2 linked regions of the Homo sapiens genome follow. The protein of the gene in region 2 interacts with the protein of the main gene of each other region in a pairwise test. Each region holds a gene or a part of one and is shown on either strand. Other genes may lie near its edges. The genes, in order: GMDS and KCNAB3.

Evidence for each region.
Region 1: the proteins of KCNAB3 (region 2) and GMDS interact in binary tests that used the Homo sapiens proteins (3 or more experiments, as listed by UniProt).

The regions. Positions count from the first base shown.
Region 1 is NC_000006.12:2,238,711-2,242,622, forward strand, and holds part of GMDS (GDP-mannose 4,6 dehydratase), read right to left. Parts: intron 1-3,912. UniProt on the Homo sapiens protein: Catalyzes the conversion of GDP-D-mannose to GDP-4-dehydro-6-deoxy-D-mannose.
Region 2 is NC_000017.11:7,923,215-7,927,126, forward strand, and holds part of KCNAB3 (voltage-gated potassium channel subunit beta-3), read right to left. Parts: intron 2,890-3,912; coding exon 2,845-2,889; intron 2,762-2,844; coding exon 2,717-2,761; intron 2,513-2,716; coding exon 2,469-2,512; intron 1,970-2,468; coding exon 1,883-1,969; intron 1,287-1,882; coding exon 1,201-1,286; intron 1,052-1,200; coding exon 931-1,051; intron 849-930; coding exon 754-848; intron 618-753; coding exon 497-617; intron 418-496; coding exon of another isoform or gene 331-417; coding exon 242-330; intron 1-241. UniProt on the Homo sapiens protein: Regulatory subunit of the voltage-gated potassium (Kv) channels composed of pore-forming and potassium-conducting alpha subunits and of regulatory beta subunit. The beta-3/KCNAB3 subunit may mediate closure of potassium channels.

The sequences.
Region 1 (3,912 bases), on a different chromosome or scaffold from region 2:
ATTTTTCTACCCAAGAAAAACCCAAGAATTTAAAACTCCTTCCTCTATCCTAATTTCCCTGATTTGAACTTTACAAACATGTACCAAAATATCACACATACCCCATAAATATGTACAATTATTATGTACCAGTTAAAAAAAAAATCGTTCCTCACCAAAAAGTCACTTCATTCATTTGATATGTCCTACAAAGATGGACAGCTCCAAGTTTTCACTCTATCCTTACAAATTCTGACAACATACAACTCATATGAATTTCTTCTTAGTTTACAAACTTAATTTCAAATTCAGTAAAATTAATAGTTCATTGGTTTCATTTAAAAAAAAAACTATCCTGGCCGGGCACGGTGGCTCACGCCTATAATCCCAGCACTTTGGGAGGCCAAGGTGGGCGGATGACTTGAGGCCAAGAGTTCAAGACCAGCCTGGCCAACATGGCAAAACCCCAACTCTACTAAAAATACAAAAATTAGTTGGGCGTGGTAGCGCACGCCTGTAATCCCAGCTACTCAGGAGGCTGAGGCACAAGAATCACTTGAACCCAGGACACGGATGTTGCAGTGAGTGAGATCATACCACCATTGCACTCCAGCCTAGGCAACAGAGTAAGATCTGTCTCAAAAAAAAAAAAAAAAAATCCAATTGGCTTTATGTCTAAAACTGAAATTACTGCACTGCTTAAATATAAAGATAATTGCATAATTTCTCTATTGTACACATAATAAGTCAGCATGTAATCCAAACATCACACTACTGTAGACTAGGAGCAGCCCTTAGATCCCTAAGAATAACCAGGTAACCCTTTCACTTGACAAGTTAAGAAAAACACTCAAAAAATGTAAGGCTATACAATTAATTGGTATCAAAACCCAACCTCTGATTCCCAGTCCAGAGCTCTTTCAATTAATCACATGTAACAGTCTTTGATTAAGCAGGACAGTACTCAAGACATCTCTCTCACTTCCAATAATGCCAGACCTTTTTTTTTTTTTTGAAATGGAGTCTTGCTCTGTCGCCCAGGCTGGAGTGCAGTGGCACGATCTCGGCTCACTGCAAGCTCTGCCTCCCGGGTTCACCCCACTCTCCTGCCTCAGCCTCCCAAGCAGCTGGGACTACAGGCACCTGCCCCCATGCCCAGCTAATTTTTTTGTATTTTTAGTAGAGACAGGGTTTCACTATGTTAGCCAGGATGGTATCGATCTCCTGACCTCGTGATCCAGAGATTTGGGAGGCCCGCCTCAGCCTCCCAAAGTGCTGGGACCACAGGTGTGAGCCACCACGCCCAGCCCAATAATGCCAAACCTTTTATCCCAGGACTGCAAATCCCAGCAAGGAAGATTTAGAATGGAAGTCACTGCCTACAATCCTCTTATATGAGAAGATAAGACCAGCTCCCAGATCTGCTTTGCACAGTCTTGAAAGACTCACTGGACATTAAATCTGTTGGCCTCCCAGTACTTTATAGCCTTGTGGTTGATTCCAAATATTACAGAACTTTCTGCTTCTAGATAATAGATTCCCCATGCAAAGCAAGGCTAAATAGTAATACCTCCCACATTCAACTTCCTTTCCTAAAAGTCAAGAAATCTTTTATTATTCTGTTAACACTATGGAGGGAAGGTCCATTCCAGTAATGAGGCAAAGGCCACTACTATGTGCAGATTTATTTCCTATTTGATAAGAATTATTCTTCCAACCTGGCAGAAAAGATAAGTGACTTACCCAAAGCCAGTGCAGTTCAGAAAGAGCTAAGCAGTAATTCAAACACCTGTAATCCCAGCTACTCAGGCAGCTAAGGCACGAGAATCATTTGAACCTGGAAGGTAGAGGTTGCAGTAAACCGAGGTCACGTCACTGCACTCCAGCCTGGACAACAGAATAAGACTGTCTCAAAAAAAAAAAAAAAAAAAGAAAAGAAAAAGAAAACCACCTCATAGAAGCTCTCTGTTGCTTCAACAAATATACTTTGAACAAAATGTAATGCACTTTGAACGGTACCTGGCACAAACTAAATGCTCAGTACTTGTTAATTATTTTAATCTACCATAATTATAACTATCACCATCATCATACCACTAGACTATCAATGTCATAAGGAAGATGGTAATTCAGTCTGTTGCATTTGCTGTTCAAAGTGCATTACTTGTAGAATTGGTAGAGAAAAGGGAAACAGATCAGAAAAATTTTTCAAATCTACAACCTGGTCATGTGATAGTGAAAGAAAACAGCATTTTTCAGTAAAGAAAGCCAATGGTGCTGGGGAGCAATCACCTGCTAAAGAGGTTGGCATGGATAAAAGGGAGCCAGGTGCTAATAGTCAGAACAATGGGAAAAGACCCTGAAGGCATCTCAGACATCTTTGAGGCTGTCTCTCCCATCAGAGGCCCAGAGACCTAGGAGGACAGCATGGTTTGGGGAGACAGGCCCGGGGCACAGCTGGCCTGGCACACCTCAAGGAGTCCTGGAACGTCCTACATGCTGCTCCGACATCCTGGCTGCTGCAGTCACAGAATGTCTACCCAATGACCGTACAACCATTGTATCTTGGAAAAAAATTATTCGTTTTTGGTTTTACAGGCTCATAGCTAGAAGGAACTTGCTTTGAGTCTCAGACTTTGAACCGTTAAGTTGGTGCTGGAACAAGTTAAGAATTTTAGGGACTATTGGAATTGTATTTTGCATGAGAAAGATGATTGTATTTTGCATGTGAGAAGGATGAGATCTGGGGGGTCAGGGATGGAATGCCATGGTTTGGATCTTTGACCCCTCCAAATCTCACACTGAAATTTAATCCCCAAGGTTGGAGGTGGGAACTAATAGGAGGTGTTTTGGTCATGGAAGCAGATCCCTCATGAATGCTTGGTGCCATCCTCACAGTAATGAGTGACTCCTCACTCTATTAGCTCCCGCTAGAGCCGGTTGTTAAAAAGAGCCTGGCACCCCACACCCCACCCCACCTCTTGCTTCCTCTCTCACCATGTAATCTCTGCATACACTAGCTCCATGAGTGGAAGCCTAAAGCTTTCAGCAGAAGCAGATGCTGGTGCCATGCTTCTTGTACAGCCTTCAGAACCATGAACCAAATAAACCTCTTTTCTTTATAAATTACCCAGCCTCAGGTATTCCTTTATAGCAACACAAACAGATGAAGACAACTTTCATATCTTTATATCTGCAGCAGCACCAAAACAAGCCTTGGACACTGCAGACATGCAGTGAAGATGTGTTCTGCTAATGGAAAAAGTAAGTCAACAGTTTTGAAACCCCACTAGATGAAGGCATGTGGGAGGTAACAGGCTGAAAATGAGATTTCTATCTTAAAGTAGTTCATAATCTCAAGACAAAAGATATGAAATTACTTATACAATCAACAGGGACTGCATACATGTAAATACAGAGGAAGTTCCTGGAATGGCTGCATTTATCAGGATTAGGCTGAGAACACTGAGACTCACCTTAAAAGGAATAAGAATTGTGAGGCCATTCAGCCACAAATAATTACTCCAAAGAGGTACAAGGCAACAGTATTCAAAAAACAGCAAGAACATCTCCAAGAGTGCAGTAAAGAACAGCATCATTAGCCAATGGGGGTGAGCTTTTAAGAGTGGCTGGCAGAGGGCCTGGAGACAGCAATGCAAAGCCAGAGCCTGAGCTTCTTTAAAGCCTATTTAATAAGGTTCCCACTTTGGAAAAGGAGTGTGTCAAGAACCGATGGGAGGGGAAGGCTAGAATAAGAAGCCTGACAATACGTACTAGAGATACACAGCAGACAGGACACCCTGGCTGTCCGCACTATTCTCAAGCGGGAATTTGGGACAACCCATTTAAGAGCCCATCTTGGCACAAATGCCATGATAGCCCCAAGTGCCAGAGCAGTGGCATTTGAATCTGAAATCTCTTCTTAGAGTAAGA
Region 2 (3,912 bases):
TGCTGGGTCACTGAGAAAGGGCATGGGGTTCCAGTAGCCGGGGAAGCACCACAGTGGGGTCAAGTGGCAAGGCAAGAGCCGCAGCTGTGCCGGTGCCTCGCTTTCCGGCCCTGGGACCTCTCACCTGCAAAGTGAGGACTTTGTAGTGGGTGACCTGATAGAGCCATCCTGGGTTGGATAGCGTGGCTTTGACTCCTGGGGAGGGGGACAGATAGGCTCTGCCTCTGAGTCCCCGGCTCACCTGTAGCGCGCCCAGGTGTTCTATCAACTGCTCCGCACTCGACACCCCCAGCAAGACAGAGCTGACACCCTCACTGCGGAGACACCACGCTGGGGCCAGAGGAGGAAAAAAAGAGGACTGATGGGGAACAGTGACCACATAGATTTCAGAAGTGTCTCTGAAGACAAGCGTCCTCCCTAGGGACAAACCAGTTTTAGGATGGGCTTGGGAGCATGTCAGGAGGAGACAGGGCCCCTGCAGGGTGCAATGTCTCACCAATAGCAAGCTGGGCCACGGTGCAGCCCAGCTGGTGAGCGACAGGAAGAAGGTCCATGACTTTGGCTTGTTGCTTCTTGCCATCTTCACTCTGCACTTTGTCCTTGAGCCACTGGTAGCCCTGGAGGCCAAGAAGAATCAACAGAAGACCCCGCCATCACCACCACCACCACCACACTCACAAAGCAGCCCCCCGTAACTCCCCCCAAAGCAGCCCATATAGCCCAGTCCTGCCATCGAGAGCCCCCAGATCTCACCTTGATGGAGGCCCTGCAAGTATCTGGGACTCGCCCATCATACTTGCTAGTAATGAGACCACAGGCTAGAGGGTACCAAGTGACTGATCCAACTCCTAAGGGAAGAACACTGGGTGTCAGGAAAAGGACCTAGCCATGGATGAGGCTAAGGTAAAGGCAGGGATGAGGGCTGCAAACCAATCTTGTGGTAGAGCTCTGGCAGCTGCATCTCCACCTTCTCCCTCTGAAACAGATGGTGCTCCGCTTGTTCACACACTGGAGGAATCAGATTGAACTGTCTGGCCATGGAGTAGGCCTCCTGGGTTGGGGTTGGGGAAAAGAAAGTGGTCAGAGCACTACTTCCGTTTTCTTCTCTGCCTTCTCCCCCAGTGCAGTGGGCTTTGGAGTAACCACGTGAAAAGTGGGAACCAGTTGTGGGACAGGGGCAAGGTGGGGTCACACACTCACCATGATTTCTGCAGCCCCCCATCGGGATGTCCCCCAGTATAGGGCCAGGCCCTGGTTGATGACATAGGTCATGGCTCGCACAATCTCTAGGTACACAGGAGAGGGAAAGCCTTACTGTCAGAGCCCTGGAATCTAAGACTCCAGATTTGCAGACCTCCACCTGCCCCACCAAGGCCCCAGGCAACTCTATGGAGTCATGAAAGTTAATATCTACTCTTTGCCTCTCTTCCTGTCCACATCCTGGAGTCTCAGCCTCCACTGTGGAGTTTTGGAGGCCTTCTGAGCAGGGGCTGGCTTCCTGCTGAGGGTTTGAGGAAGTGCTCAATTTTTGTATTTTAGATTTTTTGAGACAGGGTCTCACTCTGTCACTCAGGATGTAGTTCAGTGGTGCAATCATAGCTCACTGTGGCCTCAAACTCCTGGGCTTGAATGATCCTCCTGCCTCAGCCTCCTGAACAGCTGGGAGTACAAGGCACACACCACCACAGCCAGCTAATTTTAAAACATTTTTTGTAGAGACAGGGTCTTGCTATGTTGCCCAGACTGTTCTCGAACTCCAGGCCCCAAGTGATCCTCCTGCCTTGGCCTCCCAACGTCCTGGGATTACAGGAATGAGCCACCGCACCCAGCAAGGAAGTGCTCAGTTTTGAAGGACTGTAAGGTTTGGGGGTGCTGCTTTTACCCTCCATAGGACAGTTGGGGTCTGAGCGATTGGCAAAGACAATGTCCACGTATCCCAGCTGGAGGCGTTCCAGGGATCCTCGCAAGCCTGGAGGTGGGGTAGGGAGAAGAAAATAAGCACCTCAGCTTCAGTGTACTAAGAATGCAGGCCACCAGGCGTGGTGGCTCATGCCTGTAATCCCAGCACTTTGGGAGGCCGAGGTGGGCGGATCACCTGAGGTCAGGAGTTTGAGACCAGCCTGGCTAACGTGGTGAAACCCCATTTCTACTAAAAATACAAAAAATTAGCCAGGCGTGGTGGCGTGTGCCTGTAATCCCAGTTACTCGAGACGCTGAGGTAGGAGAATCCCTTGAACCCGGGAGGAGGAGGTTGCAGTGAGCCGAGATCGTGCCATTACACTCCAGCCTGGACAACAAGAGTGAAACTCCGTCTCAAAAAAAAAAAAAAAAAAAAAAGAATTCAGACCTTGCCCCCTTGCCATGGCCACCTAAATCCCTATTCAAAGCCTCCAGAAGTTCAGAGAATGTTCCCTACTCCTCTGGCTTCCATATCCCCTCACTTTGGGTTTCCAGCCCCTAACTCTCACCCTCAATGATGTGCTTTCGGCTTAAACCTCGCTCGGTTTCTGCCCTGTAGGAAAAGGTAAGTCAAAGATGAGATGTGACAAAGATAGGGGACCGGGGCTGGCTTGGAGCCATAAGGAAATGGGATTGCACGAGTCTTCACAGGCATGGTGCGGACCTGGTGCAGGATAGCTGTCCCCACCCCCACCCCATACACCTTCACACATTCTTTGTAGGCCTTCTCCACAATCGCAGTGGGGCAGCCACTTACTGTCCTCCCCAAAAAATCTTGGTAGTGATGACATAGCTTGATCTCCTGGAAGAATAGAAATGGGAGAACCAGTAAGAAAAGGATTTTTGGGTGATCACATCCCCAGCAACCCCCCAAAACAGTCTCACCTCCAACCTTTGCTCTTGAGGATGTTCCCTAGGGTTCTTTCAGCCCTAAAAGAAACATAAGGCAGAGCCACTGATCCCTTCTAGGCCAATCAATTCCTTCCTCTCCTCCCCACCTTTTCCTCTCTTGCAAAGTAGGATATAAACCAGGAGTCCATTTCAGCTCACAGCCCCATCCTGGACAAAATAAGAGGTCTGTTGGAAGGAACTAGGGGTGTAGTTGTATAGTTTTCATCACATATTCAACAAATATCTGTTGTGCATTAGCTGTGTACCAAGCCCTGCTGTGGGTGCCAAAAAGATAGAATAGGATGAGGGGAGAGGGGCCAACTATGGTGGAGCCAGGAAGGACACTGCCTTGTCTGGCTTCAACTATCTGGGTTGCCCTCCTCCTTCTTTGAGCCTCTGCAAAATCCCACCCGTCCTCCAAAGCTCAGCTCAAATTCTGCCTCATCCATAATGTGTTCTCTGAGTGCCACAATCTATGGTCCAGCCTTCTGGTCAGCTTCCACAGAATTGGCTACATAATTTAGCATAAAATTATGAGCTCACTTATGACAAGTCTTAAGTTGTCATGGTGGACTGTTACTGAAATGTTTTACCGTTGTTTAATCTTTCCTATTGCCCTTTTTTTTTCCTTTAACCACTTAGACTGTGTGCACTTTCGCAGACATGTTGATTCTTCCCAGAAGCAGCACCTGCTCTGTGCCAGGCTCTGTGTGGGTACTTGGGGAAGAGCAAGACAAGTTCCATGGAAGGAGGCCTCTGACTTGAGCAGCTAATATAGCTGCATAAACCACGAATTGCGTGTCAGAAGGCAGTCCACAGTGCTTTAGGAGCTCATGGTGGGGGAGGGGGTGACCAACTCTGGGGAGTTGGGCAAAGTTCTTGAAGGAGCGGACACTCGGGTCAAGTCTTGAAGATGAGCAGAAGTGTTTGCTAGATGGGGAAGAGGCAGGGTAGGTCATCCTAGGTTTTCCCTGCTCCTAGTGTGAAACGGCATGATGTGTTTGAAAATTCATCTTTGTAGTTGCACATAACTAATGCCTCAGATATATTTGTTGCCTTTAT